2 separate regions of the Homo sapiens genome follow, and region 1 is linked to region 2. The links come from fine-mapping of genetic effects on gene expression. Tissue or cell type: whole blood. Region 2 holds a variant in brackets; the other region holds the start of a gene. All regions are shown on one strand. Distances are from middle to middle.

What was found. PIP is the estimated chance that this variant, and not a neighbour inherited with it, causes the effect.
Region 1: it holds the start of PPP1R14A, and the variant in region 2 is fine-mapped to the expression of PPP1R14A in whole blood (TOPMed, PIP above 0.99).

The regions. Positions count from the first base shown.
Region 1 is chr19:38,250,814-38,263,116 of GRCh38, forward strand. It overlaps PPP1R14A (protein phosphatase 1 regulatory inhibitor subunit 14A), which reads right to left and starts at 5,561. Exons shown (of 4, transcript NM_033256.3): 1 at 5,326-5,561; 2 at 2,081-2,161; 3 at 1,493-1,525; 4 at 424-633. The coding sequence starts at 5,526. The coding sequence ends at 505. RefSeq lists a silencer at 5,353-5,540 and enhancers at 10,376-11,313, 11,314-12,250.
Region 2 is chr19:38,269,584-38,281,886 of GRCh38, forward strand. The region is part of intron 1 of SPINT2 (serine peptidase inhibitor, Kunitz type 2); the gene reads left to right. Among named protein-coding and RNA genes, the nearest start is that of SPINT2, 11 kb to the left of the region's middle. The variant G/A (reference allele first, on the strand shown) is at 7,823.

The DNA of each region.
Region 1 (12,303 bases), 19 kb before region 2:
CCTCAGTACCAAGGGCCATTATAAGCACAGCGCAGATTTCATGGAGTGGCTGAATGATTTGTTTGCTGTGTGATCACCTGTACTGAGTCAATATCGGTCACCTTTGGTCATGAGCATGCCCCTTGACCCAGATTCCTGCAGGAGCCTGCATATAGGGGCCCTGCTTGCTGGGACTGGGGATGGGGGTGGGGTGGGGAGTTCAAGGGAAGGCAAGGTCTAGGATATAAATCCCAAGGGCGTGGGCTCAGCAGGGCCCGTTCTCATGCTTTCTGGCCCGGGAGGAGTGATTCTCCATCTGGCAGGCCCAGCTGCAGTGCTGGGACAGGGACATGAGCAGAGGCCACAGGAGGAGAGAGGGAGGTTGTGGGGGGAGCTCGGGGAAGCCCATGGTAACCCGGGGGGAGGAAAAACAGCCACACAGTGTTATTGTTACAGAACCATTAAATACAACTTATACACAAGCAAGCTGGGCGGCGTCCGGGGGGCAGGGAGAGTGCAAGAGGGTCAGGGGTGAGCAGTCCGGGCCCGGTCCTGGAGGGGGCTGAGGCTGCCGTCGTGGGAGGGGCTTGGCTGGCGGAGGCCGGGCTGCCTGTGGAGGCCTTGAAGCTTTGCCAGCAGCTCCTGGATGAAGTCCTGAGACAGGGTGGGGGAGCTGAGAACATGGGAACAGTGCGGGGGCACCCTCTGCCCCTGTCCAGCCCAGTCCCTGACCTGGGCGCCTCCTCCTGTTCTCTGATTGTGGGGTGGGGGGAGTTAGGGGCGGAGGCTATAGACATAGAGAGAAAAGTGAGCCGGGAGAAAGACAGAGATGGGGAAAGGGCGATGGGAGGGATGGAGAGAAAGAGCTAGGAAGAGAGATAGAGATCCAAGGAGACAGATACGGAGTGGGGGAGGGGGAGAAACAGACACAGAAACAGAGAGACATGTAGAGATAGAGACAGAGAGAGACATAAGGACAGAGAAAGAAACAGAGACATGTGGAGACAGGTCCCCAGAGATAGATCCAGGGCGAACAGAAATGCAATGACGTTTGTCCCTAGAGCTAGTTGGAGAAACATGAATAGTTTTCCCTTTTAAAGCAGGGAAGGAAGTGGGAGGGGTTGGGCCGCTCAGCTTCAGGGCCTGGGAGGATGGAGGGCCCCCAGAGGTGGGGAAGGGAGCCCGGGGTGGCGGAGGCAGTGACAGGGGAGGACAGAGGGAGACTGAGCCCGAAGGCTGGTGGCCAAAGGACAGGCACAGGAGAGGCAAAAACAGGGCAGATGGGGGAGGACAGAATGGAGCCCCCTCAGCAGATGGGGGAGAGAGGGAGAGAGACAAGTAGGAGGACAAAAGACACCCCTGGAGACCAGAAAGAGCTGCGGAGGGCAGGTTGGGGCCGGGGGTGGTGGGGCCGGGTGGTGTTCCCCAGAGACCCTTCTGCCAGCTTCTTCCCCCTCCCCCATCAGAGTACTTGGGGCCAGAACAGGGAGAGAATGAGGGAGAGAAAACTCACCTCGACAGGTTTCCCACATGACTTCAGGAGTCCCTAAAACCCCCAACCAAGAACAAAACAAAACAGTAAATGACTAACACCTACTCCCCTCCAGCCCCTTCCCTTTCCCAAAAGGCCCCAGCAGCAAGACAAATGGAAGTCAGACTCCAGGGTGGACTGCCCACCAAGCTTCAAGAGAGGAACAGAGCCCAAGGGGCATGTGGATCGACTCAGGGCAGGGGTGAGTTACTAGATCCAGAGAGGGCGAGAGGGTCACACAGCACTTCCCTCCTCTAAAAAGGTATAAGCCATAAGCAAAGACATGGCTGCCAAACTGCCTGGGTTCGATGCCCAGCTCTGCTCCTTCTGAGCTGTGTGACACTGGGCAAGGGATTCAACCTCTCTGGGCCTCATTTTCCTCATGGGGAAAATGGAGCTCACACTAGCGCCTGCTTCGGAGGGTTTTGTGAGGGTTAAGTGAGTGAATACATGTAAAGCCATCACACCAGTGCCCGGCATCTAGTGAGCACTCAGTAAACACGTGAACTATTGCTATTATTTTTAGGGAGGTGCAAAGTGGGAGGCTGGGGGACACGTCCCCCCACCTACCTGGATTTTCCGGCTTCTCTCCTCTTCACTCTCTAACTCCAACAATTCATCAATGTTGATCTCATCGGGCATGTCTGCCTCCTAGGGCCAGGGAGGGAGGGGTGCTTAGGATCCCCTTCCCTCCCTCCCTCGCCTTTGTCCAGGGCTCTGCAGGAGCCCCACCGGCCCCAGGGCCCAGCTGGCGGGTTCTGGAGCATTAATGTGGCAGTCCGGGACAGCACTGCCAAGACGGGACATCTGGGTGTTGGGGGGGAGGGGTGACAGATGGGCTGAGAGAGCCCCGGGGCCCTGTACCAGCCCGATGCCTGGGCCCATGGGCCCCGGGAGCCTCGGGGCTGGCACGGGTCTCTCGCCTTGGCTCTAGTTCCCACAGAGGAAAACAGGCCTAGTGGAGTCCTGGAATGTCAGATTCTGGGATTCGGGAGAGGAGCTGGCTTCTGCCCTTTCAAGGAAAAGTCTTAGCACTAGGTGCAGGGGAGGAGAGGCTGGCAGCCAGCAGCCAGCTGGGGCGGCCCCTTCCCCCAGGGGACAGGAAGGGAGGGGACAGGAAGGGAGGGGACGGCTTGGGCCAGCCCCCAGAGGGCCAAAATGCAGCCTGGTGAGACCGAAGGGAGGACCACCGAGGCCCCTCAAGGTGGGTGGGTGGGATGAGTCATGGCTCAACTCAGCTGCTAAGAGCGGGGCGCTGAGTGTGGCCTCTACAGGCAGTGGCCCAAGCGCAGGCTGGCTCAGTACCCCTGCTGGGAATAGGACCCAGCTGTCCCCAGCTGTCGAGGGAGCAAGAGAGCCTTGGGGTTATGAATCCTTTCCTCCCCAACCCAAAGTCCGGCTGTCGGCTTCAGGCCTGGGGCTTCAGGGCTGGATGGTCCTGGTTCATGTGTGGTGAAGGGGCTTCAGCAAGGACACAGGTGTGTGAGTCTCTGCCAGGGCCACAGCCTGATGCCAAGGGCCTGGGGCTGGCCGAGGATGCAGAGGGACCTGGCATCGTGCAGTGGCTTCGTATAGTGGACTGTGGTCCTGCAGGTGTGAGGTGTGTGGCTCTGGCTTGGGTGTGTGACACATCAGCATGTGTCCACAGTCAGCTGTGGGGCCCACCACCTGAGAATGGCCTCATAGATGCCACCTGCCACTAGCAACCAGATTGGTTCACCTGTATGGGCCCAGGTGTGAGTCTGAGAACAGAGGGACTGCATGTCACCATGGGAGAAGGGCCATGCCTTCCACCATTGTCGCACCATGAAGAGGAGGACTCGTGGGTCCTGTGTACACTGTAGCATACAGAAGTCACAGAAGGCCAGGCGCAGTGGCTCACGCCTGTAATCCTGACATTTTGGGAGGCCGACAAGAGAGAATTGCTTGAGCCTAGGAGTTCAAGATCAGCCTGAGCAACATAGCGAGGCCCCATCTCTTTTTCTTTTTTCTTTTTTTTGAGACAAAGTCTCCTTCTGTCACCTAGGGTGGAGTACAATGGCGCGATCTTGGCTCACTGCAACCTCCGCCTCCCGGGTTCAAGTGATTCTCCTGCCTCAGCCTCCCAAGTAGCTGGGATTACAGCTGCCTGCCACCATGCCCGGCTAATTTTTGTAATTTTAGTAGAGACAGGGTTTCACCATGTTGGCCAGGCTAGTCTCGTACTCCTGACCTCAAGTGATCTGCCCACCTTGGCCTCCCAAAGTTCTGGGATTACAGGCGTGAGCCACTGTGCTCGGCCAATGAGGCCCCACCTCTAAGGAAAAGAAAAAAGAAGTCACTGAAAGTGTGACTTCAAGCAGAAACTCAAGTGATGAAGTACCTGTGTGTGTCAATACATGTAGCTGTGGCTTAGGCTCTTGTGTGCCTGTGAGCAGCGGTGGGTTCTGCAGTTGTATGTCCACCTGTTCCTATAGCTTACAGTTTTTTGTTTGTTTGTTTGTTTTTGAGACGGAGTTTCGCTCTTGTTGCCCAGGCTGGAGGGCAATGGCGGGATCTCGGCTCACCGCAACCTCCTCCTCCCGGGTTCAAGCGATTCTCCTCCCGAGTAGCTGGGATTACAGGCATGTGCCACCACACCCGGCTAATTTTGTATTTTTTAGTAGAGACGGGATTTCTCCATGTTGATCAGGCTGGTCTCAAACTCCTGACCTCAGGTGATCCGCCCGCCTCGGCCTCCCAAAGTGCTGGGATTACAGGCGTGAGCCACCGTGCCCGGTGCTTACACAGTTTTATGTCTGGGTGTAGTTATAAATTCTGTTGGGTTTTGTTTGTTTTTGAGACACGGTCTCGCTCTGTTGCCCAGGCTGGAGTGCAGTGGTGCAATCTTGGCTCACTGTGACCTTGGCCTCTCAGGCTCAAGCAATCCTCCCACCTCAGCCTCCTGAGGAGCTGAGATTACAAGTGCGTGCATGCCACCACGCCCGGCTAAGTTTTAAGATTTTTGGTAGAGACAGGTTTTCCCCATGTTGCCCAGGCTGGTGTTGAACTCCTGACGTCAAGCAATCCTCCTGCCCCGGCCTCACAAAATGCGTGAGCCACTGTGCTGGGCCAATTTCTGTTGTTTTATGTCTTTGAGTGGCTGCGGATCAGCGCTTGTGCTTGAAGGTGGTCAGTTTTTTCTTTAGGAGATAAGGAAGGGCCGTAACTTGAGTCATTTTGTGTTCCAGTGGGGTTGTGCTGTGTCTGCCTACGGCTGTGGCCCATGCCGCTGTGTCTGCGGGTGGCTGTGACTGTAGCATATGTTGAACTGTAGGTGACCCCCCCCCAGCCCCCGCTTGTGTCCTTGTGGGTTTGTGCATGGCTGTTACTTCTGGGCTGTGTCCGTGAGTGGCTATAGCTTCCTTCACTGTGCACATCTGTGTCTGCTTTTGCTTCCTTTGCCGTGGGTCTCTGTGTGGCTGTATCTCCCCTGTCACCATGTCTGTGTTTGGCTTTATGACACCCCCCTTCCCCCACTCTTTCTCCAGACGTGGCGGTTTCAGCTCAACTTAGCCTCCTCCCTCCTCATGCTAAACCCCTGGCCCTCCACAGGCGTTTGGACACATCTCTGGAGACCCAAGTCTTTGTGTGTTGCTCTCGGTGTGTCCACAAGCACAATGCCATAGAGCACGGATGGCCAGGCCAATGAGTGCCCGGCCCTGGGGCGCTCGTCCTCTTGTGCAGACCAGGCTGGCCGTGCACCAGCGAGTGTGCACCGAGACCCCAAGGGCGTGGGGTCTCCGCGCCCGGGCTCTATCTGTCCCCGACCACCCCCGAGCCCTCCCCGGGCTCACCATGCCGCGGTACAGCTCCTCCAGGCGCCCGTCGATCCACTTCTCCACGTCCAGCCGCCGCTGCAGCTCCCGCCGGTCATACTTGACGGTGACGCGCGCGTGCCGCTTCTGCAGCCCCCCGGGACTGCCCCCTGGCCCGCGGGCCCGCGATGGAGACTGCAGCTTGCTCAGCACGCGCTTGCCCAGCCGCTGAGCTGCCATCGCGCTGCTGGACCCAGCCTGGCCCCGCGCTGTGCGCCTTCGCCTCGCGCCCCGGGTGCTTCTTACGGGCCAGGGCGGGGCTAGCCGGGGGCGGGGGCTCGGGCTCGCCGGGAGGTCTGCCCCACCCCGGCCGCCTCAGGCCTCAGTTTCCCCGTCTGCAGTGCGAGAGTAGGCCGCTGCGTCGGCTTGAGGCACGCAGTCGTGCGAAGTTGAGGTATGGGCGGGGACCCAGAGTCCCGGGCGGGTCCCTGCATCGGGGGCTCCCGGGCCGGGATCCTGTGGGGCGGGGGCCTGGGACAGACACTCGGGACCCGGCCTGTCTGCGCCCTCTGGCGGTGGCGGGGTGGGGGGCTGTTGGTGCGGGAGCGCCTGCGCCGCTGTCGCTGTAGAAGGTCGAGCGGTCACTTGTTCCTTCGTTCATTCATTCACTCATCCATCCATTTGTTTGTTCACTCATTCCGTTCAACGAATTTTTTTTTTTTTGAGTCGATGTCTCTCTTTGTCGCCCAGGCTGGAGTACAATGGCGCGATCTCGGCTCACCGCAACGTCCGCCTCCCAGGTTCAAGCGATTCTCCTGCCTCAGCCTCCGAAGTAGCTGGGATTACAGGGATGCACCACAACACCCGGCTAATTTTTGTATTTTTAGTAGAGACGGGATTTCGCCATGTTGGCCAGGCTGGCCTCGAACTCCTGACCTCAAGTGATCTGCCTGCCTCCGCCTCCCAAAGTGCTGGGATTACAGGCGTGAGCCACCGCCACTGGCCCGGTTCAACGAATATCTATTAAGTATCCACTCTATACCAGACACTGCTTTACGCTCCAGGGATAGAGCAGGGAACAAAACAGACAAAACCAGTCCCACGCAGTTGACAGTTGTAGCCGGGATACATGAGAAACACAGTAAGTACGGTATTATACAGTTTATTATCATATAAGTGCTTTGGAGAAATATAAAGCAGAGAAGGAGAAATGGAGTGAGGGTAAGGTTGCAATTTTAGCGAGGGTGGCCAGGGAAGTCCCTTACTTCAAAACAGTCTTCTCACTTCTAATTATAAGCAGCAATAATTATACTCTAAAATTTAAATGTGGCTGGGCGCAGTGGCTCACTCCTGTAATCCCAGAACTTTGGGAGGCCAAGGAGGGTGGATCACGAGGTCAGGAGTTCAAGACCAGCCTGGCCAACATGGTGAAACTCCATCTCTACTAAAAATACAAAAATTAGCTGGGCCTGGTGGCACATGCCTGTAATCCCAGCTACTCGGAAGGCTGAGGCAGGAGAATCGCTTGAACCCGGGAGGTGGAGGTTGCAGTGAGCCAAGATAGCACCATTGCACTCCAGCCTGGGCAACAAGAGCGAGACTCTGTCTCAAAATAAATAAATAAATAAAATAATAATAAATAATTTTTTTAAAAAGGCCAGGCATGGTGGCTCATGCCTGTAATCCCAGCACTTTGAGAGGCCGAGGTGGGCAGATCACGAGGTCTGGAATTCAAGACCAGCCAGGCCAACATGATGAAACCCCATCTTTACTAAAAATACAAAAAAAAAAAAAAAAAAGCCAGGCGTAGTGGTGTGCACCTGTAATTGCAGCTACTGGGGAGGCTGAGGCAGGAAAATTGCTTGAACCCAGGAGGCAGAGATTGCGGTGAGCCAAGATCGCACCACTGCACTCCAGCCTGGGTGACAGAGCAAGACTCCATCTCAAAAAAAAAAAAAAAAATTGTAGAGACAGGGTCTCCCTATGTTGCCTAGGCTGTTCTCCAATTCCTGGGCTCAAGCGATCCTCCCACCTCGGCCTCCCAAGGTGCTGGGATTATAGGCATGAGCCACCTCACTCCACCAGCCAGCCATAATGTAAAACTTTTGAGTTTCAAAGAACATCATCAAGAAAGTGAAGAGACAACCCATGGAATGGGAGGAAAAAAATTGCAGTCATGAAACTCATAAGGTGCTGGGACGAGCCACCACACCTGGCCAAACTATACACTTTAAAAAGGTGAGTTGGGCCAGGCACAGTGACTCACGCCTGTAATCCCAGCACTTTGGGAGGGCAAGGCGGATGGATCATCGGAGGTCAAGAGTTAGAGACCAGCCTGGCCAACATGGTGAAACCCCATCTCCACTAAAAATACAAAAATTAGCTGGGCATGGGGGCACATGCCTATAATCCCAACTACTCAGGAGGCTGAGGCAGGAGAATCGCTTGAACCTGGGAGGGGGATGTTGCAGTGAGCTGAGATCATGCCATTGCACTCCATCCTGGGCAACAAAAGTGAAACTCCATCTCTAAATAAATAAAGGGTGAGTTGTATGGTATGTGAGTTATATCTCAATAAGACTGTGTTTTTTTTTTTTTTTTTTTTTTTTTTTGAGGCAGAATCTCGCTCTGTTGGCCAGGCTGGAGTGCACTGGCATGATCTCAGCTCACTGCAACCTCTGCCTCCCAGGCTCAAGCAATTCTCCTGCCTCAGCCTCCCGAGTAGCTGGGATTACAGGGGTGTGCCACCACGCCTGGCTAATTTTTGTATTTTTAGTAGAAACGGGGTTTCACCATGTTGGCCAGGCTGGTCTTGAACTCCTGACCTCAGGTAATCCACCTGCCTAGGCCTCCCAAAGTGCTGGGATTACAGGCGTGAGCCACCGTGCCCGGCTTCAATAAAGCTGTTTTATTTCAAAATTAAAAACAGGCCAGGCGCCATGGTTCACGTCTGTAATCCCAGCACTTTGGGAGGCTGAGGTGAGTGGATTATCTGAGGTCAGGAGTTTGAGACCAGCCTGACCAACATGGTGAACCCGTCTCTACTAAAAATGCAAAAAAAATTAGCCAAGCATGGTGGTGCACCCCTGTAATCCCAGCTACTCAGGAGGCTGAGGTGGGAGAATTGCTTGAACCTGGGAGGCGGAGGCTGCAGTGAGCTGAGATCGTGCCATCACACTCCAGCCTGGGCGACAGAGAAAGACCCCATCTCTAAAAAAACAAAAATAAAAAACAACTATCCATAGCTACCCATGACCTTCAGTCTAAAGGCCAAACTCTGGTTTAGCAGTCCCATCTCTGCCAGGGACAGTCCCATTTCAGCACCAGCACCTTTCACTCGCAGTTCCCTCTGCCAGGAAGGTTCTTCCCTAGAATATCATCAGGGCTCACTCCTTCACCTCCCTCCAATGTCACTGTTCAGTGAGGTCTTCCCTGGCCACGCTATTTCACACTGCAACTCTCGTGCCCCTCATCCAGCTCTGTTTGATACATAACACTTACCACTTTCTAACATTATATATATATATATATATATATATATTTTTTTTTTTTTTTTTTTTTTTTTTTTTTTTTTTTTGAGTTGGAGTCACCTCAGGCTGGAGTATAGTATTGTGATCATGGCTCACTGCAACCTCTGCCTCCTGGGTTCAAGAGATTCTCCTGCTTCAGCCTCCTGAGTAGCTGGGACTACAGTTATACACCACTGTGTCCGCTTACTTTTTATATTTTCAGTAGAGATGGGGTTTCACCATGTTGGTCAGGCTGGTCTCGAACTCCTGACCTCAGACGATCTGCCCGTCTTGACCTCCCAAAGTGCTGGAATTACAGGCATGAGCCACCATGCCTGGCCTCTAACATTATATATAATGTACTCATTTAATGTATTGTCCATGCCAGGCGTGGTGGCTCACACCTGTAATCTCAGCACTATAGGATGCTGAGGCAGGAGGAGCAATTACATCCAGGAGTTCAAGATCAGCTTGGGCAACATAGTGAGACCCTGTCGCTACAAAAAAAAAAAAAAAAAAAAAAAGCCAGGTGCAATAGTACATGCTTGTAGTCCCAGTTACTCTGGAGGCTGAGTTGGGAGGATCACTTGAGTCCAGGAGATGGAGGACGCAGTGAACTGTGATTGCACCACTGCACTCCAGCCTGGGTGATGGAGTGAGACCCTGTCTCAAAAAGAAAAATGTCATATTTTCTGTTCTGTGCAGTGACAGAAAAAAAAAATTATTGTCTGTTTCCCAACTAGTAGCATACTAAAGGCAGGGGGACAGGACTGGTCCACTTTGGGTACAGGCAAAAAGAGGGTGCACTGTCTGTAGAGAATTTAAAAATAAAAAGCTGACCAAGGCCGGGCATGGTGGCTCATGCCTGTAATCCCAGCACTTTGGGAGGCCAAGGCAGGCAGATCACCTGAGGTCAGGAGTTCAAGACCTGCCTGGCCAACATGGTGAAACCCCATCTCCATAAAAATACAAAAATTAGCCGGGTGTGGTGGTACAAGCCTGTAATCCCAGCTACTTGGGAGACTGAGGCAGGAGAATCGCTTGAACCCGGGAGGTGGAGGTTGCGATGAGCCAAGATCGTGCCATTGCACTGCAGCCTAGGCGACAGACAGAGTGAGACTCCATTTCAAAAAAACTGACCAAAAGTTGGTCTAATTTTTATTTTACTTTGCAGTGACATTTCTAAACAGTGTCAATGATAAAATAGTCCTCCCCAGGGAAGAAACAGAAACAAAAACCTTTTGGTGGTCTGCTTTCTAAACAATTGATGCAATATAAAAAAGGGGGAAAAAAACAATTGATGCAATTACTGTCGGTTTTTTTTTTGTTTTGTTTTTGTTTCATTTTTTGAGACGGAGTTTCGCTCTTGTTGCCCAGGCTGGAGTACAATGGCACTATCTCAGCTCACTGCAACCTCCACCTCCCAGGTTCAAGCGATTCTCCTGCCTCAGCCTCCTGAGTAGCGCGGATTACAGGCATCCGCCACCACGCCCGACTAATTTTGTATTTTTAGCAGACAGGATTTCTCCATGTTGGTCAGGATGGTCTTGAACTCCCGACCTCAGGTGATCCGCTCGCCTCGGCCTCCCAAAGTGCTGAGATTACAGGTGTGAGCCAACCACGCCTGGCCTACTGTCAAGGTTTTTTTTTTGGTGTTTTTTTTTTTTTTTTTTTTTTTTTTTTTGAGACAGAGTCTCGCTCTGTCACCCAGGCTGGAGGGCAGTGGTGCAGTCTCAGCTCACTGCAACCTCCGCCTCCCGGATTCAAGCTATTCTCCTGCCTCAGCCTCCCGAGTAGCTGGGACTACAGGCGCCCGCCACCGCGCCCGGCCTCTTTTTTTTTTTTTTTTTTTTTTTTTTTGAGAACGAGTCTCGCGCCGTCGCTCAGGCTGGAGTGCAGTGGCGCAATGTCGGCTCACTGCAAACTCCACCTCCCAGGTTCAAGCGATTCTCCTGCCTCAGCCTCCCAAGTAGCTGGGACTACATGCGCCCACCACCACGCCCGGCTAGTCTTTTGTACTTTTTTTCAGTAGAGACGGGGTTTCACCGTGTTAGCCCAGATGGTCTCCATCTGCTGACCTCGTGATCCGCCCACCTCAGCCTTCTAAAATGCTGAGATTACAGGCATAAGCCACCGCACCCGGCCCTTCTTTTTTTTTTTTTTTTTTTTGAGACGAAGTCTCACACTGTCGCCCGGGCTGGTGTGCAGTGGGGCGATCTCGGCTCGCCGCAGCCTCCACCTCCCGGGTTCAAGCGATTCTCCTGCCTCAGCCTCTCCAGTGGCTGGGACTACAGGCGCGCGCCACCACGCCCGGCTAATTTTTGTATTTCTAGTAGAGACAGGGTTTCACTATGTTGGCCAGGCTGGTCTCAAATTCCTGACCTCGTGATCCGCCCACCTCGGCCTCCCAAAGTGCTGGGGATTACAGGCGTGAGCCACCTCTTTTTAATGAACTCTGAAGGATGATAAAGGCCAAGGGACAAACATTCCAAGCATCAGGAATGTTGATGCTTGGAATGTTTCTCAGGACAGATATGGAGATGCCCAGGCCTCCCAAAGTGCTGGGGATTACAGGCGTGTGAGCCCGGCCTCTTTTTTTTTTTTTTTTTTTTGAGAACGACTCTCGCGCTGTTGCTCAGGCTGGAGTACAGTGGCACAATATTGGCTCACTGCAAACCCCGCCTGCCGGGTTCAAGAGATTCTCCTGCCTCAGCCTCCCGAGTAGCTGGGACTACATGCTCCCGCCACCACGCCCGGCTAATCTTTTTGATTTTTTCACCGTGTTAGCCAAGATGGTCTTGATCTGCTGACCTCGTGATCCACCCGCCTTGGCCTCCCAAAGTGCTGGGATTACAGGCATGAGCCACTGCGCTCAGCCCTCCTTTTGAGTTTTTGTGTTTAAAGTTCAAAACTGGACAGATGCAGTGGCTCACGCCTGTAATCCCAGCACTTTGGGAGGTCAAGGTGGGCGGATCGTGAGGTCAGAAGTTCGAGACCAGCCTGGCCAACATGGTGAAACTCCATCTCTACAAAAAATACAAAAATTAGCTGGGCGTGGTGGCGGGTGGTGCCTGTAATCCCAGCTACTCAGGAGGCTGAGGCAGGAGAATTGCTTGAATCCAGGAGGTGGAGGTTGCAGTGAGCTGAGATCACAGCATTGCACTCCAGCCTGGGCAACAGGTGAAACTCTGTCTCAAAATAAAATAAAATAAAGAAAGAAGAGGCCTATACCTTCTTCCAAGCCTTGACGGCTCAGCACATACTTCTCTGTTTTCATGCTCAAGCCTAGGTTTAGTAGGCCTGAGTGGCAGTGGGAGATTCAAGTGCTGGGGGAGACCTTTGGCCTCACATTCAGATTCCACCTTGAGTCCCATGATCTCATTGCAAGGTTAGACTTCCATTGTTTAAGGTAAATACCATTTTGATAACTCAGTTACGGCTTTTCATGTATTATTATGCTAGGAGGGAGGCTGAAGAGTGGGAGTGGCCCTGGCTCCTGAACACACTA
Region 2 (12,303 bases):
TTAGTTGAGATGGGATTTCTTTTCTTTTTTTTTTTTTTTTTTTGAGACGGAGTGTCTCGCTCTGTCGCCCAGGCCGGAGTGCAGTGGCGCGTTCTCGGCTCACTGCAAGCTCCGCCTCCTGGGTTCACACCATTCTCCTGCCTCAGCCTCCCGAGTACTGGGACTACAGGCACCTGCCGCCACGCCCGGCTAATTTTTTGTATTTTTAGTAGAGACGGGGTTTCACCGTGTTAGCCAGGATGGTCTTGATCTCCTGACCTTGTGATCTGCCCGCCTCGGCCTCCCAAAGTGCTGGGATTACAGGCGTGAGCCACCGCGCCCGGCCTGAGATGGGATTTCAACATGTGGGCCAGGCTGGTCTCGAACTCCCGACCTCAGGTGATCTGCCCACCTCAGCCTCTCAAAGTGCTGGGATTACAGGCTCGAGCCACGTGGCCCAGCCCTCTCCTGCACTTCCAAGGGATTTTCGAAATGCATGGACCTCTCAGGTTAATTATAGTGTCTGTAGAACCTTAACTGCTGTAAGCTTTCCAGCAGACTCCACAGACGTGTTATTAGTTGCCACCCTTTCTTTACTTTCCTCCTCACCCCCATGGATAGTCGTGACCCTGGTGGTCAGAGATAAGATGACAGAAGAGCTAAAGTAAAGCTGGTGTTGGCGATCAGCTGGGAATTCTCTAAAACAGCTTCTCACATTATTCTTATCCTCCATAGAAGGAGTGCTTGTCCTACTTGCAGGCAAGGCAGTTTGGTTCCAGGGTAGTTCGAAATCTTATTCACTGATATAGTCAGCAAATGTTTATTGAGCACCCACCAATTGCCAGGCACTGACTCACTCAAATTAGAGCACTGAACAAAATAGACCCCCTCCCCCATCCGTGGCAGACGTGTCATAATGAGAGGAAGACAGTACAATAAATGAACAGATGAATGTATGTCTGGTGATGAGTGTCAGGGTTGGTGTGCTTAGCACTGAAAATGGGGGCTTCTGAGGTTCAAATGGTTGCAGTTCCTAAAGAAGGTTGAGGGCCTTGCCTTCAGGTCACCGCGGGAGACTGGCCCCTTTCCACTGGAAACATTGCTTTGCCCAGTCAGTATTTGAGAGCTCAGCCTGCAATGGAGAAATCACACTTCTCCTCTTTCACCCTGCTCCCCACCCTGTTTCTCATTTTACCCATCCCCAGCCATTTGCAGAATGCATGCAGAGCTTCTGTTTGCCATGTCTGGAGGCTACAGGGGAGGCTGAATAAGGGGTGATAAGCCTGTGGCTCATGTGAGGCGGGAGAGAGCCCAGCAGGAGTCACACTGAAATGACTCCATTAGCCCCAGGAGGCCTTGGCCCACCGGCCATGACTAATGTGGACATTAGAGTGTGGATTCCGATGTCCTGCAAGATCCTCCTCACAAGTGTCATTTCATGGTTTTTTTCTGGCAACATCTTTTTGAAAACTCCCTGTAAAGAAGTGCTGATGTTGATGCTGAGGCCCAGGAACTTTGGAGTTTATTTACCTTTTTTTGTTGTTTTATTTTCCTTGGCAGGTGAAGTAGGAGCTAGAGTTTACTTATTTTGAAGTTTATTTGAAATATGCTTTTTATGATTAGAAGCCATTTTAGAAATGAGGGCGAGGCCGGGCGCGGTGGCTCATGCCTGTAACCCCAGCACTTTGGGAGGCCGAGGCAGGCGGGTCACGAGATCAGGAGATCGAGACCATCCTGGCTAACACGGTGAAAACCCGTTTCTACTAAAAATACAAAAAAATTAGCCTCGCGTGGTGGCGGGCGCCTATAGTCCCAGCTATCTGGGAGGCTAAGGCAGGAGAATGGCGTGAACCCAGGAAGTGGAGCTTGCAGTGAGCTGAGATCATGCCACTGCACTCCAGCCTGGGCAACAGAGCAAGACTCTCTCAAAAAAAAAAAAAATGTTATGCTAAGTGAGAGGAGCCACTTACAAGAGACCACCACATGTTTGGCCGGGTACAGTGGCTCATGCCTGTAATCCCAGCACTTTGGGAGGCCGAGGTGGGTGGATCACGAGATCAGGAGTTCAAGACCAGCCTGGCCAAGATGTTGAAACCCCATCTCTACTAAAAATACAAAAAAAAATTAGCCGGGTGCAGTGGCAGGCGCCTGGAGGCTGAGGCAGGAGAATCGCTTGAACTCGGAGGGTGGAGGTTGCAGTGAGCCGAGATCACGCCACTGCAGTCCAGCCTGGGAGACAGAGTGAGACTCCATCTCAGAAAAAAAAGAGGGCAAGAATTCACATGTTGTTTTACTCACACGTGTTGGAGATGGAGCTCAGGGTGATTCCTGACTGGGCCCAGGGTCCATGGCCTCAGAAGTCCCTTAATCTGAAGTCCTTCACTTTTATGTGATACTGCTGGGCACAATGGCTCACGCTTGTAATCCCAGCACTTTGGGGGGCTGAGGCAGGTGGATTGCTTGACTGAGGAGTTTCAACATGGTGAAACAAAAAATACAAAAAACTAGTCAGCCTGTAGTCCCAGCTATGTGGGAGGCTGAGGTGGGAGAATTGCTTGAGCCCAGGAAGTGGAGGTTGCAGTGAGCCGAGATCGCACCATTGCACTCCAGCCTGGGCGACAGAGCGAGACCCCATCTCAAAACAATTTTATATGTGATAGTTTGTCCATGTGTATGCCAGGGTCTGTCATTTAGAGTGTATGGCATGTTCTTAAAGGGGTGGGGGAACAAAAAGATACTATAATAGTTTGTGACCTTTTGAAGGGCCGCTCTACATGAATAGATATATAGTATGTCTGTGGTGTTAAAATTTTGTGGGGCGATTAGGAAAAACATTTCCAAAAAGTCTTAGGGGGAAGGTAGTAATGAAAAAAGGTTGAGAAACACCATTCCAGAGAGAGGGTCCAAGAGCTTTCCTCAGTTCTGAAAATGGTCCATGATTTGCACAAGGTAAAGAATGGCTGAATGCGAATTAACAGCAGACAGTTTCTTAGAAGATTTGAAACTATTGTTTCCTTCCCAGCTATTCAGATGGACTGCTCGGGTTCTTGTTATGGATTGAGGCGAGGGTAGACTTAATAGTCTTGTTTCAGAGTGGAATATGGAGTGATGGTAGGCATGAGTAGTGATGAGTTGCATTGTGCTGATAGGTTATGAAATGTAAATTTTTTATTTTTTGATATGGAGTCTCTGTCGCCCAGACTCTGGAGTGCAGTGGTGCGATCTCGGCTCACTGCAACCTCCACCTTCTGGGTTCAAGCGATTCTCCTGCCTCAGCCTCCTGAGTAACTGGGATTACAAGCATGCACCACCACGCCCGGCTCATTTTTTTGTATTTTTAGTAGAGACGGGGTTTCACCATGTTGGCCAGGCTGGTGTTGAACTCCTGACCTCAGGTGATCCACCTGCCTCAGCCTCCCAGAGTGCTGGGGTTACAGGCGTGAGCCACCGTGCCCGGCCTGAAATGTAAACTTTTATATCTAAATATTTTATATAGAAAATACCAAGATTTTATATCTGAAACACCAAGATTTTATGAGCCTCATAACTTAAGTAGGATTTGTAATTGTAAATGTTCTTTCCTCATAAATACCTGAGGTTTTTTTTTGAAAGGTTCTGAATTGTCTCAATAATGAAAACTTCCAGACACCCAAGCCTAGAGGAGATGGGTAGTTGGTAGCTTTCTGTACTGGAAACAGAAACACTCAAATATATAGAACCTAGCCAGCTAACCAAAGTAGGTAGATTTATAGATCATCTTAAAATAAGGCTGATTACACAGTAAATGTCACCTTTGGAATCTGGCTTGGTAGAATTGAAATAGGCTTCAGTACCTCCTGTCATTCAGTACCTGTTTTCTTGAACTCCTGACTTCAGGTGATCTGCCTCGGCCTCCCAGAGTGCTGGGCTTACAGGCATGAGCCACTGTGCCCGGCCTCAGTACCTCTTTTTAAGATGCTCTCATTCATTCCCTGGTGAAAAGATGCTTGAAGTGCAAGTGCAAGTAGGTGTGGAAAGCATGGAGGGTTTGTGTTGCTTCATTTGTTTTGGTATTTGTTTTTTCCACCAGTCCCTCCCTCTGGCTTTCTGCCTCCCAGCCCAGCATATCCTGATCTTGTAGCCATGCAGGACTTTGACCCGTGTGGTGGTTTGCCATTGTCTTCCTCCAGGTGAAGATAAGACATCATTGGTTTGGCTTGAGGTTGTACTTTTGGCCTTCCCTGTATATCCTCTTCCTCCTTATCCTCTCCGTCAGCATGCTTGGTTGGACTCTGTAGTGAAATGTGTCATTCTCTTTATTCTGACTGTCCCTATATTAGTCCTGTCTTCATAAAAAATACAATCGTAAAGATACAATATCTACTATTTGTTAAAAGTTTTGTGCTAGGCCAGGTGCGGTGGCTCACGCCTGTAATCCCAGCACTTCAGGAGGCCGAGGCGGGTGGATCATTTGAGCCCAGGACTTCAATACTAGTCTGGGCAACATGGTGAAACCTCGTTTCTACAAAAAATGCAAAAATTAACCGGGTATGGTGGCACACGCCTATAGTCCCAGCTACTTGGAGGCTGAGGTGGGTGGGTCACTGAGCACAGGTCAAGGCTACTGTGAGCCAAGATTGTACCACTGTACTCCAGCCTGGGTGACAGGGCAAGTCCCTGTCTCAAAAAAAAAAAGAAAGCTGTGTGCTAAATACTATTTTAAGCAATTATAATGGATTAAAAACTCCTTTAATCTTCACAACAATGTTTTTTCTTTCTTTTTTTTTGAGATGGAGTTCTTTGAAACTCTTGGATTAAATGACTCTTCAGAGCTTTCTTTGCTTTTTGATACTAAGGAGTGGCATGTCTGGGGATTTTTATAGCAAATAACTTCTCCTTGGCTACTATCCTTAGAATTCCAAGTGTTTTTAATGAAAAGAGGAGACTTGTTTTTAGTGATGTTAGTTGTTTTTAGGAAAGGTGTTCTGCAGTGTTTTTCGCTAAGGTGGCTCACGCCTGTAATCCCAGCACTTTGGGAGGCCGAGGTAGGCAGATCACTTGAGGTTAGGAGTTTGAGGCCAGCCTGGCCAGCACAGCAAAACCCTATCTACTGAAAATACACAAAGTAGCCAGGTGTGGTAGTACACTCCTGGAGTCCTAGCTACTCAGGAGGCTGAGGCAGGAGATGACTTGAACCCGGGAGGCAGAGGTTGCAGTGAGCCTAGATCGCACTATTGCATTCCAGCCTGGACGACAGAGTGAGACTGTCTTAAAAAAAAAAAAAAACATAAAATGGAGAGGTAGACCAGCTTACGGGAGGTGTTGCACTTCCCTCTGCCACTGGAGAGACTCTGGATCTGCAGCCAGGGAGCTTGTGAAGGCTTCTTGTCCACGGAAATGAGGGCGGCAGTTGTGACTTTCTGGATGGTGGCCCAGAGGAAGCAACACTGGCAGAGCCTCTTCTGTGAAGCAGCTCTGCGAGCAATTTTGTGACATTGAAAGAGCAAAGGATAAAACGTTGAAAGCTGATCCAGATCTAGAAAAGTGTTTGGCAATTGCTGGAAAAGGTGTAGAAATGATGCTTGCTCTGTATCGTAAGTTATATGGTGAGAAGACCACAAGCACGGTTCAAACTCCCCTTAGAAATTCTTTTGCACAGAAATTAACACTTTAATCCTAAATGTTTCCAATGTTTTAACTTACAGTATGCTAAATAAACATTCTTTCTGTTTGTTTGTTTTGTTTTGTTTTGTTACTCTGTGCATTTATAGCCAATAGAGTTTTTCTTTCCTTATTTTTTTGACACAGGGTCTTGCTCTGTCGCCCAGGCTAGAGTGCAGTGGTGCGATCTCAGCTCACTGCAACCTCCGCCTCCTGAGTTCAAGTGATTGTCCCGCCTCAGCCTCCCGAGTAGCTGGGACTACAGGCGCGCGCCACTGTGCCGGGCTAAGTTTTATATTTTTAGTAGAGATGGGGTTTCGCCATGATAGCCAGGGTGGTCTTGAAATCCTGACCACAGGTGTGAGCCACTGTATCTGGCCAAAAAAATTTTTTTATTTTTTGTAGAGACAGGGTCTCACTATGTTGCCCAGGCTGGTCTTGAACTCGTGACCTCAAATGATCCTCCTGCCTCGGCCTCCCAAAGTGCTGGGATTATAGGTATGAGCCACCATGCCCAGCTTGACAAAAAAATTTTTTTTTTTTTTTGAGAGATGAAGTTTCACTCTTGTTGCCCAGGCTGGAGTGCAATGGATCAGCTCACTGCAACCTGTGCCTCCTGGGTTCAAACGATTCTCCTGCCTCAGCCTCCAGAATAGCTGGGATTACAGGCATGCACCACCACGCCCGGCTAATTTTGTATTTTTAGTACAGACGGGGTTTCTCCATATTGGTCAGGCTGGTCTCGAACTCCTGACCTCAAGTGATCCACCTGCCTCGGCCTCCCAAAGTGCTGGGATTACAGGTGTGAGCCACCACGCCCAGCTGACAAAAATTTTTAAATGTCATTGAGCAGTATCATTTTTCCCACTGATTATGAGATTGCTTTGTGTGATCACACACTGACGGGCAGGCCAATTGCTGCTTGTATTCAGTATTTGGCCCCTTATAGAAAACATTTGCAGACCCTTGTTCTAGAAAAAACAGATGGGTGGGAGGAGGAGGAGGAGAAGCATTTCAGGAGTGGCTTTGGGCTTTCCTGTCCTGCACGTGGTGAGGCAAGAAGCTCTTGTGCCTCAGCTCATAGCACTCATGGGAGTCTGTCAATAACTAGAACCCTAGGAGTTATTTTTGCTTGTTTTAAAAATAAGCTTGTTTTGGGGCCAGGCGTGGTGGCTCACGCCTGTAATCCCAGCACTTCGGGAGGCCGAGGCGGGTGGACTTACAAGGTCAGGAGATCGAAACCACTGTGGCTAACATGGTGAAACCCTGTCTCTACTAAAAATACAAAAATCAGCCGCGTGTGGTGGCGGGCGCCTGTAGTCCCAGCTACTCGGGAGGCTGAGGCAGGGGAATGGCGTGAACCCAGGAGGCGGAGCTTTCAGTGAGCCAAGATCGCACCACTGCACTCCAGCCTGGGCGACAGAGCGAGACTCCATCTCAAAAAAACAAACAAACAAAGCTTATTTTAATGGATATAAAAACATGAATGAAATAAGACACCAAGTTCAAGGTGGTAGGGGGTTAATTTGGAAGAGGCAGAGCAAATGTGATTGAATGAGGGGTATGCAAAGGGTTTCTGCTCTATCCATATGTTTTATTTATTAATTTATTTTTGGAGAACAAAGTCTCGCTTTGTTGCCCAGGCTGGAGTGCAGTGGCGTGATCTCGGCTCACTGCAACCTCCACCTCTTGGGTTCAAGCGATTCTCCTGCCTCAGCCTCCCGAGGAGCTGAGACTACAGGCACGTGCTACCACACCCGGCTAATTTTTGTATTTTTCAGTAGAGATGGGGTTTCACCATATTGGCCAGGCTGGTCTCGAACTCCTAACCCCAGGTGATCTGCCCAGCAGGCCTACTCTATGTTTTAGTCCTTGAGAATGTTAGAATTTGATGACACTGAGATGTGGATATACCAGACATGGGGTATTTTCTGTACTCATCAGCATATTTGAAATATTTCATTAAAGTTCTTACTTTGCAAAGTAGACACAGCTGCAATTATGCATTTTTGGAAAATGATTAGGTACTATCTCATCTGTTTTGTTTTTTTGTTTTTTTGTTTTTGAGATGAGGTCTCTGTCACCCAGGCCTGAGTGCAGTGGCGCAATCTCAGCTCACTGCATCCTCTGCCTCCCGGTACAGGTGATCCTCCTACCTTAGCCTCTCAAGTAGCTGGGACTGCAGGTGCACACCACCACACCC[G/A]GCTCATTTTTTTTGTATTTTTGAGCTCAAGCAATTTGCTCGTCTCAGCCTCCCAAAGTGCTGGGATTACAGATGTGAGCCACTGGCCCAGTACTATCTTGCTAAGCCTATAAAATTAGATTAGATTGGTAGTACTTGGGACCCCTCAGAATTCTATAATGTCCTTCTTAGAAGGTGACAGCAGATCTATCCAGCAGACTGTAGATTGTTGTCTTAGTCACCGGCTGATTGTCTTGGTTAAAGCTCTAGTGACTTCAGAACCAGAGAAACTTGTTTTCCAACACATTCAAAGACCAGTTTGCTTTGCAATTTTGCAATAGCTGACATTCAGAATGCCTGCGAGGATTTTGTAAGTGAGGTTCATATTTCGGATAATGTGTGACTTTTGCCATTTCTGATGCTTTTCCAAAAGAAAGTTACTCTTCCCTAAAGGCAGGAATTCTACTTTTGCTTAGATATTCTGAAGCTTATGAGTTCATCCAAATTTGGTTCCTTTCAGCATTTTCCTGTTGGTCCGTCTCCGTTTTGAAAACATACAGAATGTACTTAATTTTGCCCTACCATTTGTGAGCATACAAAATAGCACTTGAGTCATATTTTTCATGATTGCTTCCCAATACTATTCTAAGACCAACATAGCATTTTGTCATTTCATAATAATAGAATTCCTCATTAAGGAATAACTTTCTAAAAATGTGTCCAGCCCATTTCCCCCCCAGCCCTGGCCGTTTCCTTTGGTATGTTGGTGTCCGTGACCCTGTCATTGAGTGTGACTGAAAACAGAGGCCTGGCAGAGGGCCTGGCCTTTGTGAGCCCTCAGATTGTGATAAAGACCCTGAGGAATGTTTTGGCTTTTAGGCAACCTCAGTTCTGTTTTCCTGCTGCCTGTTGATGCAGTGGCTTTTTCTTCCCATCAGTCTGAAGGGTCGTGTTAGTGCCTGGGCTCTCATCAGACCACAGGGAACTCATCCTGGCACTGCTGGCTGCCTCACTTTAACCACCTCAAGTCTCAGCATTCTCGTTTGTAAAGCGGAGATATTATTACGTGATTCACAGTTTTATTGTGACCATTAGAGGTAGGGCACATGATATGCCAGGCATCATGCTTGGCGAAGGCAATAAGTAATGCAGCCAGGTGCTGTGGCTCATGCCTATGATCCCAGCACTTTCAGAGGCGGAGGCAGCAGGATCACTTGAGACCAGCCTGGGCAACATGGTGAGAACCCCATCTTTACAAAAAATTAAAGTTAGCCAGGCGTGGTGGTGGGTGCCTGTAGTTCCAGCTACTCAGGAGGCTGAGATGGAAGGATTGCTTGAGCTCAGGAGGTCGAGGCTGCAGTGAGCTGTGATCATGCCACTGTACTCCAGCCTGGGTGACAGAGTAAGACTGAGTCTCAAAATAAATAAATACAAGGTTTTTGCAGAACAGTGAATGAGAAAATGCACTGTTGTTATTTGTGGTGGAAGTGAATACTATATGGCCTGTGTTTCCTGAAGGAACACTGCCTCCATTAAAACAAATGAGCAAACAAAATCCCTTTTCATGACTTCAGTTCTCTCAGGCCTGAGAGTAAAGTTTACATCATAGATGCTTAAAAACAATTCAGTTAGTGAAAGCATGTGACAAGATGAGACGATTTGTCTTCAACGAGGAGCTTCCTTCCATACTCACAAAAAGATGTGTGTCTTAACATAGTAAGGACATGGTTAAATTTAGTCTTATTTGGACCTAACTTCAGCCAATTAATCTGCTACTTAGAACTCTTTTACTCAAATGAAATTTGAGTAAAAAAAAAAAAAATTTTTTTTTTGGCCAGGTGCGGTGGCTCGTGCCTGTAAACCCAGCACTTTGGGAACCCGAGGCAGGTGGATCACCTGAGGTCAGGAGTTCGAGACCAGCCTCACCAACATTGAGAAACCGCGTCTCTCCTAAAAATACGAAATTAGCTGGTGTGATGGCGCAGTCCTATAATCCCAGCTACTCAGGAGGCTGAGGCAGGAGAATCACTTGAACCTGGGAGGTGGAGGTTGCAGTGAGCCGAGATCGCACCATTGCATTCCAGCCTGGGCAACAAGAGCAAAACTCCATCTTAAAAAAAAATTATTATAATAATTTTCAAGTATATACAAAGCAGTGACACATTTTGTAAACCCCCATGCACCATCACACAGCTTCAACAACTACCAACATCTGTCTTTCAGACATGTTTTTAGTCCAAGTTTTCTCTTAATAAAGAGACTTTTTCTTTTTCTTTTTTGTTTGTTTGAGACTGAGCGTTGCTCTGTCGCCCAGGCTGGAGTGCGATGGCAAGATCTTGGCTCACTGCAACCTCCGCCTTGCGGGCTCAAGTGATTCTCCTGCCTCAGCTTCCTGAGTAGCTGGGACTACAGGTGCCCACCACCATGCCCAGCTAATTTTTGTATTTTTAGTAGAGATGGGGTTTCGCCATGTTGGCCAGGCTGGTCTCGAACTCCTGACCTCAGGTGATCCGCCCACCTCACCCTCCCAAAGTGCTGGGATTACAGGCGTGAGCCACCATGCCTGACCATAAAGACATGTTTCTAAATTCTCCTGGGACAACAGTGAAGTTCTACCTTTCCTTCCTACTTTACCGAAGGAACCTGAAAATAAGGCTGCTTTCTGAAACTTAAACTACTAAGTCAGTGATATTTAGAGCAGATGTAAGCAGCTGTCTAGACACAGAATGGCTTCCCAGGCTCGCAAGACTTGTCATGAAGCCCCCAGCACGTCAACAGAAAGCATCCAAGCTAGAAGAGGCACTGGCTCACAGCAGCACCCCAGAAAGGAAGCGTCTCAGGGACAGATCGTGACCGTGCTCCGGAAGAGCTGTCCTCAGCCGCTACTGTGAGCATTTGGCCTGCCTGACAGATTCTGTTGGTGAGAATGTTCTTAGGAATCATACAGTAAACTAACTTTATTCTGACTTCAAGCATCGTGTTCCATTGATGCTTGCTTTCCAAGGTGTTTTGCTGATTCACATCAGCATGCAACCTGCTTGACAGAATACAGTGATGTTCTCACTGTAAATTCATCACCTGCTGCTGTGGTCTCATGTATCATCCCGTGCGCTGTTAGCTGAGGCCAGTGCTCCTGTGTCTCCTCAGCACGAGGGCACTGGCAAGAGTGCATGTCTGGGCCTATAAAGATGTTGGCCAGGTTCTAGGCAGGGTTGAATTCACCAAGGTAACTGCCATCCATCCCTCAATAGGCATTTTTTCTCCTACACACCCTCAGGCACATGCCACGTGTACCTGGCACCCTTACTTACGAAGTTACCGAATTCCTGCCATGATACTGTGGGTCACCCTGCTTCATTCTCAGGTGTGGTGTCGGGTGGTTCCTGCCTGGGCGCCGGGTGTTGTTGGGCCCTCCCTCAGGTTATTGGTTTTTGTTTTGAGATGTAATTCACATGCCATATGATTCACCCATTTAAGGTGTACAATATTCCCCTGAAGTTTATTGTGGAAAAAGGCTGTGTCTGACACTGCTTAGGAAGCTAAGACACAAAGCAGCCAGAGGGGCTGCCAGGGCTCACTGTGGCAGGGCGGCGGAGAGGCTGCTGGCGCCTCTGTAGCTGTTGGGTGCTCTTGCCTTGATGCTGTTTTCAGCTTTGGATTGTAATTGGGTCCCACGTGGGTCCTCTTCATCTCGTCTTGTTGGTGGCAGTGTTGCTCCCAGCGTTGGGGTGGGCAGAGTCACACACCAGAGGACCTCCTCCTGCTGTTTTCTCTGGACCTTGTTGATTATGTGTTTTGTGACCTTTGGCATATTGTACCTGTTCCAGGTGTACAGCCAGCTGGTTTTGGTTGATGTGTAATGGACAAAAGGTGCCCCTATTTAAAAAAAAAATTTTTTTTCTGCTTGTAGTCCCAGCTACTCAGGAGGCTGAGGTGGGAGGATCACTTGAGCCTAGGAGGCAAGGCTTCAGTGAGCCATGGTCCTGCCACTGCACTCCAGCTTAGGTGACAGAGGAAGACCCTATCTCAAAAACAATTATATAGGCCGGGCGCGGTGGCTCATACCTGTAATCCCAACACTTTGGGAGGCTGAGATGGGCGGATCACCTGAGGTCAGAAGTTCGAGACCAGCCTGGCCAACATGGTGACACCCCATCTCTACTAAAAATACAAAATTAGCCAGGTGTGGTGGTGCATGCCTGTAATCCCAGCTACTTGGGAGGCTGAGGCAGGAGAACAGCTTGAACCTGGGAGGTGGAGGTTGCAGTTAGCGGAGATCACGCCTCTGCACTCCAGCCTGGGCAACAAGAGTGAAACTCTGTCTCAAAAAAAAAAAAATTATCATAAAATCACTCGTTTTAAGTATATCATCCAAGGATTTTAGCACCTTCTACAGAGCTGTGCAGCTATTGCCACAATCCAATTTTAGAACATTTTCATCATCCCCTAAAGATCCTTTTACCCATCACTCCCCATTCCCACCCCCAGTACCAAGCAGCCAC